Linked DNA regions of Homo sapiens: region 1 is linked to region 2. The links come from fine-mapping of genetic effects on gene expression. A gene starts in region 2. The other region holds a variant in brackets. All regions are shown on one strand. Distances are from middle to middle. Region 1 overlaps SUSD1 (sushi domain containing 1). Region 2 holds the start of SUSD1 (sushi domain containing 1).

The links. PIP is the estimated chance that this variant, and not a neighbour inherited with it, causes the effect. A credible set is the group of variants that fine-mapping cannot tell apart.
Region 1: its variant is the best candidate, but not a certain one, in a credible set for the expression of SUSD1 in whole blood (INTERVAL, PIP 0.79).

Annotation. Positions count from the first base shown.
Region 1 is chr9:112,142,283-112,147,659 of GRCh38, reverse strand. It overlaps SUSD1 (sushi domain containing 1), which reads left to right. Exons shown (of 17, transcript NM_022486.5): 4 at 4,037-4,189; 5 at 5,161-5,340. Among named protein-coding and RNA genes, the nearest start is that of SUSD1, 30 kb to the left of the region's middle. RefSeq lists an enhancer at 2,133-3,332. The variant G/A (reference allele first, on the strand shown) is at 2,050.
Region 2 is chr9:112,172,565-112,177,941 of GRCh38, reverse strand. It overlaps SUSD1 (sushi domain containing 1), which reads left to right and starts at 2,645. Exons shown (of 17, transcript NM_022486.5): 1 at 2,645-2,809. The coding sequence starts at 2,707. It also overlaps the pseudogene RPL29P20. RefSeq lists a silencer at 2,527-3,186.

The DNA.
Region 1 (5,377 bases), 30 kb after region 2:
GTAGCTGGGACTACAGGTGCGCACTGCCACGACTGGCTAATTTTTGTACTTTTAGGAGAGACGGGGTTTCACCATGTTGGCCAGGATGGTCTTGATCTCTTGACATTGTGATCTGCCTGCCTTGGCCTCCCAAAGTGCTAGGATTACAGGCGTGAGCCACTGTGACCCAGGCTGGAGTGCAGTGGCACAATCACGGCTCACTGCAACCTCTGCCTCCTGCGTTCAAGCGATTCCCCTGTGCTTCTCCTGTCTCAGCCTCCTGAGTAGCTGGGATTACAGGCACCCGCCACCATGCCCAGCTAATTTTTGTATTTTAGTAGAGACAGGGTTTCACCATGTTGGCCAGGCTTGTCTCGAAGTCCTGACCTCGGCTGATTCACCTGCCTCGGCCTCCCAAAGTGCTGGGATTACAGACGTGAGCCACCACGCCTGGCCTTTCATGCACTTCTTATATGACAAGACTGTGCTAGTGGAAGGGTGACGAGCAGACAGCTAATTTCAGTATAAAGTGTTAGTCATAGGTAAGCAAACAGCATTTACTGGAATCTAGGGGTCACTTATCTTGGCTGTGAGGAAGGAATCAGGGGAATCTTCTGGAGAATATGATCCCTGAAATTGTGTTTTCTAGGCTGTGGGAGTTTGCCAGGGAAAACTTACAACTGTATATTTATCAGTATGTTTATAGTTCCAAGAGATGAATTCAGCTTTTGAAAGTTATGAAGAAGGCTGGGCATGGTGACTCACGCCTGTATCCCCAGGACTTTGGGAGGCCAAGGCTGGAGGATCACTTCAGACCAGGAGTTCAAGACCAGCTTGGGCAACATAATGAGACTTCATCTTTACAAAAAATAAGAAAATTAGCTGGATGTGGTGGCTTGTGCCTGTTGTCCTAGCTACTTGGAAGGCTGAGGTGGGAGGATCGCTGGAGCCCAGGACTTTGAGGCTGCAGTGAGCCAAGGTTGTGCCATTGCACTCCAGCCTGGGTGACAGAGCGAGACTTTGTCTTAATTTTTTTTTTTTTTAAGTTAGGAAGAAGAATGAGGAGGAGGAAGAGTGAGAAGATTGGTGGGAACAGGAGGAGGGAAGAAGAGGGGAAGAGGAAAGAGAAAAAAATATTTTATGTAAGGGCCAAATAGGTGTCAGCCGAACTAGACCTAATCTGCCTGGAACTAAATCCAGATCTAGGCTCTACTTTTATTTATTCCATTCTTGCAATGATTGAATGACCTTCTCTTTTGTAAAAAATTGAGCTATAGTTTACATACCATCAAATTCACCCTTTTGATGTATACAACTCAGTGGTTTTTAGTATATTCACAAAGTTGTGCTAGCATCACCACTGTCTCATTTTGGAGCATTTTCATGCCCCCACCATGAAGACCATGTCCACTGGCAGCCATTCCCATGACCTTTCCTTGTGAGTTCTCCAGTTATCACTTTGTAAAAGCTGATGAATTGCTTTTCTTGATAATACTGTTTCTTTCAGAATCACAGTTGCCAGAGAAACATCAGCGGGCTTTAGCTGGGGCAGAGCTTAGCAAGTGTTGGGGTATCAGCAGTTAGTCACTGTTTGCCTGGAACCACAGGATGTGAATCCTAGTTCCTGGATTCCAAGGAATCCTGCATCCAGGTGTTTATTGTGCTTTGCAGAGTCAACATCAAGCTCAGGAGCTGGTTGCAGGTAGGCCTCTGAATGTCACCAATGTTAGAGGAGGAATGAATTGCTGGGGTTCTAGTGTGAGATGATTCCAGCCAGTCATGGAGAACAGGCAGATGTTCTGGCCCTTAGAACTGCCCCCTGAATGACTCCTGGGAATCATGGAAACCACCATGAGCCACAACCCAGGAGAAGAAGCTCTGTGGCACTTCTTGTGTGAGGGTGGTTTGACTTGGATGGGCTCCTTCAGCAATTGAATAGAATTACTGGTTCCCAAACAATAATTGGTGTGAGTGGAGAGGCGTTCATTGATCCAAGACCCAAAAGGAAAAAGAATAAAGAATATAAAAGTTCAAAAGGATTCTGAGGCAATTTTCTTTTATCTTTTGGGG[G/A]CTAAAATGTCATTTAAGAAAAAGAAATTATAGCCAGGTGCATTGGCTCATGCCTGTAATCCCAGCACTTTGGGAGCCAACTGGGTGGACAATTTGAGGTCGGGAGTTCGAGACCAGCCTGGCCAACATGGTGAAACCCTGTCTCTACAAAAAGACACACAAAAATTAGCCGGCGTGGTGGTACACACCTGTAGTCCCAGCTACTCAGGAGGCTGAGGCAGGAGAATCAGTTGAAGTCAGGAGGCAGCGGTTGCAATAAGCCAAGATCACACCATTGCACTCCAGCCTGGGCAACAGAGTGAGACTCTGTCTCAAAAAAAAAAAAAAAAAAAGGAAATTATGGTATTACTAGCTTTTTGAAATTTTTTTTTTAAAAAACAGACTTTCTTCAATCATGCTGCTTCCTGTCTTCTGCTCAATCCCTGATGTTTTTATGCCAATGTCCTAGGAATTTCAGTTAGGGTGCTTTTTTGTTTTCTCCAAGTGGAATTGAACTATGTGGCTCTGATGAAAATAGTATTATTATTATTTTTAGAGATGAGGGTCTTGCTGTGTTGCCCAGGCCGGCCTTGAACTCCCGGACTTAAAGCAATCCTCCTGCCTCAGCCTCTTGAGCAACTGGGACCATAGGCATGCCCAGGCATGCCCAGCTGATGGAATTCTTAAAGTTTTAAAGTCAGTTCTGAGGGAAAAAACTACTAACTGGAAGAGAGATTTCTTCTCCAGCCTCTGGCTTATTGGGCAGTTTTTACCCTATACCTGCTGCCTCTGATAGTCTTCAGTCAGGTGCAAAAAAATCTGCAAAAGGGCATGTCCTGTCCTTCCAGAAGGCTGTTTTAAGGCTGTCTCATTTTCATAAAATTAGTAAGACCTTTCCTAATTAAGTTACCACCTTATTACCTGCCACACCATCCTATACTCATGGGCTGGCATTTTCACTCTCCTGGAGATTGTTTTCCTTATTTAAAACATTAAAAATGTTGTTTATATTTTAAGTTAATTTTAAGACAGGTTCTCACTTCGTTCCCAGGCTGGTCTCAAACTCCTGGACTCAAGCAGTCCTCCCAAAGTGCCAGGATTACAGACATGAGCCACCGTGCCAGGCCTGTAAATTGTTTTCTATCTGAAGCCCTACTTTAGATGTTTTAGTATGAGGTTGGGACCATTCTTTTGTTATAATGATTGGGTATATTTATAGTGATTGGATATATTTATAGTGATTGGATATATTTATAGTGATTGGATATATTTATAGTGACTGGATATATTTTAGTGACTGGATATATTTATAGTGACTGGATTCTTTTAGTGATTGGATATATTTATAGTGATTGGATTTTTTAGTGATTGGATTTTCTTTTTTTTTTTCTTTGAGACGGGGTCTTGCTCTGTCACCCAGGCTGAGTGCAGTGGCGTGATCTCGGCTCACTGCAAGCTCCGCCTCCTAGGTTCAAGTGATTCTCCTGCCTCAGCCTCCTGAATAGCTGGGACTACAGGCATGTACCACCATGGCTGGCTAATTTTTGTATTTTTACTAGAGATGAGGTTTCACTATGTTGGCCAGGCTGGTCTCGAACTCCTGACCTCAAGTGATCCACATGCTTCGGCTTCCCAAAGTGCTGGGATTACAGGTGTGAGCCACCATGCCCGGTCAGGATATTTTTTAGTGATTGGATATATTTATGTTTTTGGTTCATTTTGTTGGGTGTCAGGGAGCCGGTGATGGTTATCAGCTTTTGTAAAATCCCAGAACACACTGACAAACATTTATTGAGCACTTGCTATGTTTTCAGTGCCTATGATATGAACGATATATGAGAAGAACCCATAAGGCATAAAATAAAATGTATGATACAATTGCAAACAAATGCATCTTTTTACAAGAGTAGCTTGAAAATGTGAAAAAATGGCTGTCACAATATCCTCTCCTTTTTTTTTTCTTTTTTCTGTTTTTATCTCCTTTTCTCTATTTGGATTGGGTCCCAAGACATAGATGAGTGTGAAGTTTCTGGCCTGTGCAGGCATGGAGGGCGATGCGTGAACACTCATGGGAGCTTTGAATGCTACTGTATGGATGGATACTTGCCAAGGAATGGACCTGAACCTTTCCACCCGACCACCGATGCCACATCATGCACAGGTGGGTTTCTGCCAAAAATTGCGGCATCTCAACGTGAAATTCTGTTGATGGTGACTTTCTTCTGCTCCAAGCCTGTGTTGGGGAGGCAGGTGGAGGTGATCTGATCCTTTGCACATTTTGTACAACCTATGACATAAAGCAAATAACAACAATCAAGTTACAGGGGGCCATGTTAAAAAAGCTAAAATTAGGCCAGGAGCAGTAGCTCTGTAATCTCAGCACTTTGGGAGGCCGAGGCTGGTGGATCACTTGAGGTCAGGAGTTCGAGACCAGCCTGGCCAACACGGTGAAACCCTATCTCTACTAAAAATAAAAAAAAATAGCCAGGTGTGGTGGTGGGCACCTGTAATCCCAGCTACTCAGGAGGCTGAGGCATGAGAATTTCTTGAACCCAGGAGACAGAGGTTGCAATGAGCCGAGATCATGCCATTGCACTCCAGCCTGGACAACAGAGTGAGATCTCTGTCTTAAAAAAAAAAAAAAAAAAAAAAAAAAAAAAAAAAAAAAAAGCTAAAATTCATAAACTTAAAGGATTTTTATTAGCAGTTAATAGATATTCCGATATTAACTACTATGTTAGATAGTAAATGCCAATGATTTGGTAAGGTCCCTGCATCTCAAAAGTGACCCTGAAAATAATCAAGGTACATATATCTTAAGGTATTTTGCAATTCAGATTTTTTATTTCACTGGACAAGGCTTCTCTTTAGTTAGTGTAAATTAGTGAGGGTTGATTGCTAAGTTATTTCAGCTTTGTGCATGTATAGATGCTTTACCTATGGAAGGCCAAAAGATTGAATAAAGACAATTGTTGGAAATGTTCCCAGAAGTCATGTGGGAATGAACCAGTGTACTTAAAATATGGCTCGGGGGTGTGTGTGTGTGAGGAATAGGGTAGAGGTGGAGAGAGATTGTGAATTTTGAAGATTTACATTCACGAGGTAATGAATTTGACATTAATTTATTTTCAGAAATAGACTGTGGTACCCCTCCTGAGGTTCCAGATGGCTATATCATAGGAAATTATACGTCTAGTCTGGGCAGCCAGGTTCGTTATGCTTGCAGAGAAGGATTCTTCAGTGTTCCAGAAGATACAGTTTCAAGCTGCACAGGCCTGGGCACATGGGAGTCCCCAAAATTACATTGCCAAGGTGAGTTTTCAAAAAATACAGGTTCCCAATTCATACC
Region 2 (5,377 bases):
GTGCCAAACTGGTTAACTAGTTAGTATCATATAGGACAAAATGAAATTAGTGGGTTTAACTTATTTATTTTCTGGCAGAAAGGACTGATCACTTATATTTCTCTTGGAAAACATTCATTTTCACTGCTATGGACATAAATCTTTTACATTATCATCAGTTTTCGGCAAGTTAACTTCTAGCCCTCTAGTGCTGCAAAATAGCCTAGTCAATAGGAAGTCCAGCGACGGTGCACCCAGCACCCCACTGAAAGGATACCCAGTAATCTCTTTTGCCCATTTCCAAGTTTTGGACAAATTTTCCTGACATTATCAATAAAAAATGTATATACATATATACTTAAGTTTATTTATTTTGCAAGGGGCCACAGTGGGGATGAAGTGGTATAGGCTGGTTAAAAATCTTAAGTGAATGGTATATTTGTTGAAACAATGACATGATTTCCAAGTTTGAAGTTTATGGAGAGCTGAACTTAAAAAATTTGTCTAAATAATAGAGACACACCGTCCATCTATTGCTCCCCAAACAGGTGCCTGTCTTTGTTGATCAAAAATAATTTTCAAGAAAGCCTGCTAAGAAAAGAGCTTGTGAGGCCAGATGCAGTGGCTCACTCCTGTAATCCCAGCACTTTGGGAGACCAAGGTGGGAGGATTGCTTGAGCCAAGGAGTTGGAGACCAGCCTGGGCAACATAGCCAGATCTTGTCTCTACAAAAAAAATTTTTTAAATGAGCCAGGCATGATGCTGCGCCCCTGTAGTCCCAGCTACTGGGAGGTTGAGGCTAGTGGACTACCTGAGCCCAAGAGGTTGAGGCTGTGGTGAGCTGTGCACTCCAGCTTGGGCAACAGAACAAGACCTTGTCTCCCCAAGAGGAAAAAAGAGCCTAGGAAGATGAGCTTTTTCTTTGTTTGTTTTTGTTTGTTTGTTTTTTTAAGAGAGGGGGTCTCACTGTATTGCCCACATGGGCCTTGAATTCCTGGACTCAAGCAATTCTCCTGCCCTTCAGCCTCTTTAGTAGCTGGGACTACAGGCATGCCACACTTCACCCAGCTTGAAGTTGATTTTTAACTACTTGTTAAGACTCCACAACTTTAGCCCTTATATGGGTGTGTTTGAAAGTGGTGAGATTTACGGCAGGCTCATGGCAGAGAGTAAACAAGTGAGGATATGGGGTGAAGTAGTGGGGTGCCTGCTCTCGGCTGCGCTCCCACAGACATCACAAGCTCAAAGCCTTCAAACCGGATCTTATTTATTTCCTTCTCCCCGACTAGTCATAAAACCTAGTGGATTCCACTCTTACACACTGCCCTCTTCACACTCATTTGTCAATGCCCAGCTGCAGGACACATCTATCTCTATCTCTATCTGTCTGTCTGTCTGTCTGTCTGTCTATCTATCTATCTATCTATCTATCTATCTATCTATCTATCTATCTATCTATCTGTCTATGGAGTCTCACTCTGTCGCCCAGTCCGGAGTGCAGTGGTGCGAGCTCGGCTCACTTCAACCTCCGCCTCCTGGGTTCAAGCAATTCTCTCGCCTCAGCTTTCCGAGTAGCTGGGATTACAGGTGCCTGCCACCGTGCCCACCTAATTTTTTTTTTTTCAGTAGAGACGGGGTTTCACCAAGTTGGCCAGGCTGGTATCGAGCTCCTGACCTCAAGTGATCCACCCGCCTCGACCTCCCAAAGTGTTGGGATTACAGGCGTGAGCCACCGCACCGGGCCAGGACATGTCTTCTATTGCCTGATTCCTGCAGCAACTCCGGGCTGGACTCTTTGCCTTCCACATCCCAACCCAACCCCAATCCCAATTCCACAGAACAGACAGAGATGTGTCAGTGATGAAGTCATTCACTGCTTGAAACTGTGACAGCTTCCCGGCGACCTCCATCACTTGGGTTAGGAGGGCTAACTTCCCTCTGCAGCTCAACGCCCCTCTCCAACCCTCTGCTCTCACTCTAGGTCCCCATTCCCCATTTCTACAACAAACTCCCGCTTAGATTCCTCCCCAACGTCCTTCTCATCCTTGGGTCTTGGTTTACTCCTTCCCTTGGGATGAGTACGGCTGTGATGGAGGTAGGGGCTGGCATCAGCGCGTCCCAAGCCGGGTGTCCTCAGAGCAGCGGGGACTGATGCCAGCCCCTCCCTCCATCACAGCCCTACTCTCTCTCACTCCCGGTGACCAGGTGTCACCTGGTCAAGTGTGTCGCCCCTGGGTGGCCTGGGTCTGCGTCTTCCGACCTCTCATCTGGGCCTTGCGCTGTGGTCACCTCATCCAGCTCCCTTTCACGTCCTGGAAGATTTCCGCCCCTTGCTCCCCTCACCCCTCTCCCCGGGGGTGCCTCCCTGAGCCCTCGAGTGGCTTGAATCCTCCGCAACATTTCCTCCCCAGCACTCTCCGGGGCTCTGCGTCCAGCTGTGTCATTATCCGATGAGTGTCTGTCCCCCTTTGCGAATGTGAGCGGCGAGAGGGCAGCAAGTGCGGAGCCAGAGACGGACGCGGAACGGGCGTGTCCTAAGCCCAGGCCCCGACAAGAGGAAGGACCCGCGCTCTGCGGCCTCCCGGGGACCCCGCAGCGCCCCCCGCTTCCCTCGGCGGCGCCGGAAGCCGCCGGCTGGTCCCCTCCCCGCGGCGCCTGTAGCCTTATCTCTGCACCCTGAGGGCCCCGGGAGGAGGCGCGGGCGCGCCGGGAGGGACCGGCGGCGGCATGGGCCGGGGGCCCTGGGATGCGGGCCCGTCTCGCCGCCTGCTGCCGCTGTTGCTGCTGCTCGGCCTGGCCCGCGGCGCCGCGGGAGCGCCGGGCCCCGACGGTGAGTGCGGGCTGGGACGGGCACGGGCGGCCGGCGGGGCCCCCGGCTGGGCCTCGAGGACTCTGGGCGCACGGACGCTTCCCCGCCCCTGGGCCGGGCCGGCGCGGTGCCGAGGCGTGGGGCGCAGGTGGGGCCCGCGCCGGCCGTTGGAGATCGGCAAGGAGGAGCTCAGAGAAGCGGGGGGCTCCCCGCCGGGCTTCCCTGCCCCCGCCCGACCCCGCGACGCCGGGGGACGCCGGTTTTAAGGCGGCCTGGCCGGGCCCCCAGGGACCTCCACTGCCCAGGAGGCGGGGTGGGGGCTGGGCGCGAGCGCGGACCCGGGCAGGGCGGCGCCCGGGGAAGGGCGGGGAGGCCAGGGCGTTCTGCGGCGCTGTCACGCTTCCGGCTCTGCGGTGGCTTTTGCATGACACATTTTTGACCCGAAGCAATTTTCTTACCACTTTTAATTTTTTCACGTTGTTAGAGAGCCGGATGCTAAATATGGTGAGAAAGACGCGTAAGGAAGAGTACAGGAGTGAAGCCATTAATTCACTCATTCATTCAACAGATGGCCCTTGAACAGCTTCCCTGTGCGCGATGAGGGCGGGCAGTGCGGGCCCTCGTGGAGCTCATTGTCTGGAGGATTTAGACCAGCAAATGTTCTATTTCCAAGCAATCGAGGGAGTTGTTTTTCCTCCTCTGCAAAATGCAGTGTTGAGCTGAGTAGGAATTACACAGAGGATTCAGACACGCAGGGGAGGTGACATTCATCCACATAACTGTAATACAAGGCAGAATGGCATGGGTGCCATGAGAAGGTGTGGGTGGTGAGGGCAGGGAAAGGGGAATCGGTGGTGACCCTTGAGCTGGGCCATCAATGATTGGTCATATTTGGATATGGGAAAATGTGAAAAAGGTATCCCAGCTCATAGCAGAAGGCACTGTCACCTCTCCACAAATGAGTGTAGAATGAATGAATTCCTTCAGAATTCAGGCCCGGGGGAGAAGGGAAGGAAGCACACGGAGGCACCAGAGGCAGAGGGCAGAGTGCCTTGATTGGCAGACCTAGGCCTTTGGACTTAGCTGTGCCTGGAAGCCACTGGAAGCCGTCTCAGGGAGTGACAAGAAAAGTGGGTCTAGCCAGTTCTAGGCGCTTCGGGAGCCACAGGTTACAGTGCAGACATGGCCAAATCCAAGCACCACACCACACACAACCAGTCCCGAAAATGGCACAGAAACGGCATCATGAAACCCGGATCACAAAGATACGAATCTTTTAAAGGGGTGGACCCCAAGTTCCTGACAAACATGCGGTTTGCCAAGAAGCACAATAAGAGGGGCCTAAAGAAGATGCAGGGCGACAGTGCCAAGGCCATGAGTGCACGTGCTGAGGCCTTGCCCTCATAAACCCCAAGGAGGTTAAGCCCAAGATTCCAAAGGGTGTCAGCTCTTGCCTACGTTGCCCACCTCAAGCTTGGGAAACGTGCTCGTGCCCGCATTGCCAAGGGGCTCAGGCTGTGCCAGCCAAAGACCAAGGTCAAGGATCAAACCAAGGCTCAGGCTGCAGCTCCAGCTTCAGTTCCAGCTCAGACTCCCGAAGGAGCTCAGGCCCCTACAAAGCCTTCAGAGTAGAGATCTGTGTCTGCCAACGTGAGGACAGAAGGATTGTCCCCCTTGGACTGCCATCTGCATGGGGCTGATGTCCTCCTTTGCTATTTGTATAAGTAAACTTGAGGCGGGGGAAAGAGGGTCTAAGGAACCCCCATCTTCCTTACTAAAACCAAACGCTGATCCTGAAGTGGAAGGAAATTTCCATGTGATGACATACAAGGAGACTTGTGGTTGAGAATCCTGCCTGCCGCCCCCACCCCCATTCTCTTTGGCTTGGGACTTTTACCATGCCTGATGGGTATTTCAATGGCTTGATCTTCTGGAGTGGCCATTTTTGTAATATTAGGTGCCCTGGTTAAGATTCCTTCCTTGGCTCTATCTCCGAGAACAGTGCGCATAGGACTTGCAGATGCTTGGCGTCTATTTCAGGATCTTCCTGTGATATCTCTAAGGTAGGAAACTGTCCAGTATGATCCCATTGAATTGTTAGACTAAGATGGCTGAACACAGCTAGTAGCTACGTAAGGTCATCTGTAACTAAAGGTTTTGGGGGTGAATTTGGGGAAACAGAAGTCAAGGCTTCCTGGTTGAGCCCCCTCTCCTTATCTAGACATTCTCCCTTCATGTTCAACCTTGGAGAACCTGGTTTTATGAAGGGCAGGTTTCCTGACAGTCGACAATGTAGGGAAAGACTGGAGGCTTGGACAAGCCCATTGAGGAAGTTGTTGCAATAGCTGGCCTGGAAGTTCTGAGGACTGGGCCCACAGTAATGACAGCAGAAACGGACTGAATGTAGACAGTAAGGTGGAAATGGACTGGAAGGAAGGATTTAATAACAGATATGAAGGTGCAAGGGAACAGAAGGGGAAAGATGACACTAAGGCTTGGGGGCTGGGTGACTTGGTATATGTTTCTACGGAAGGAGAAAGATTTGGAAAGAAAGATGATTAGTTGTTTTGGACATCCTGAATTTGAGGT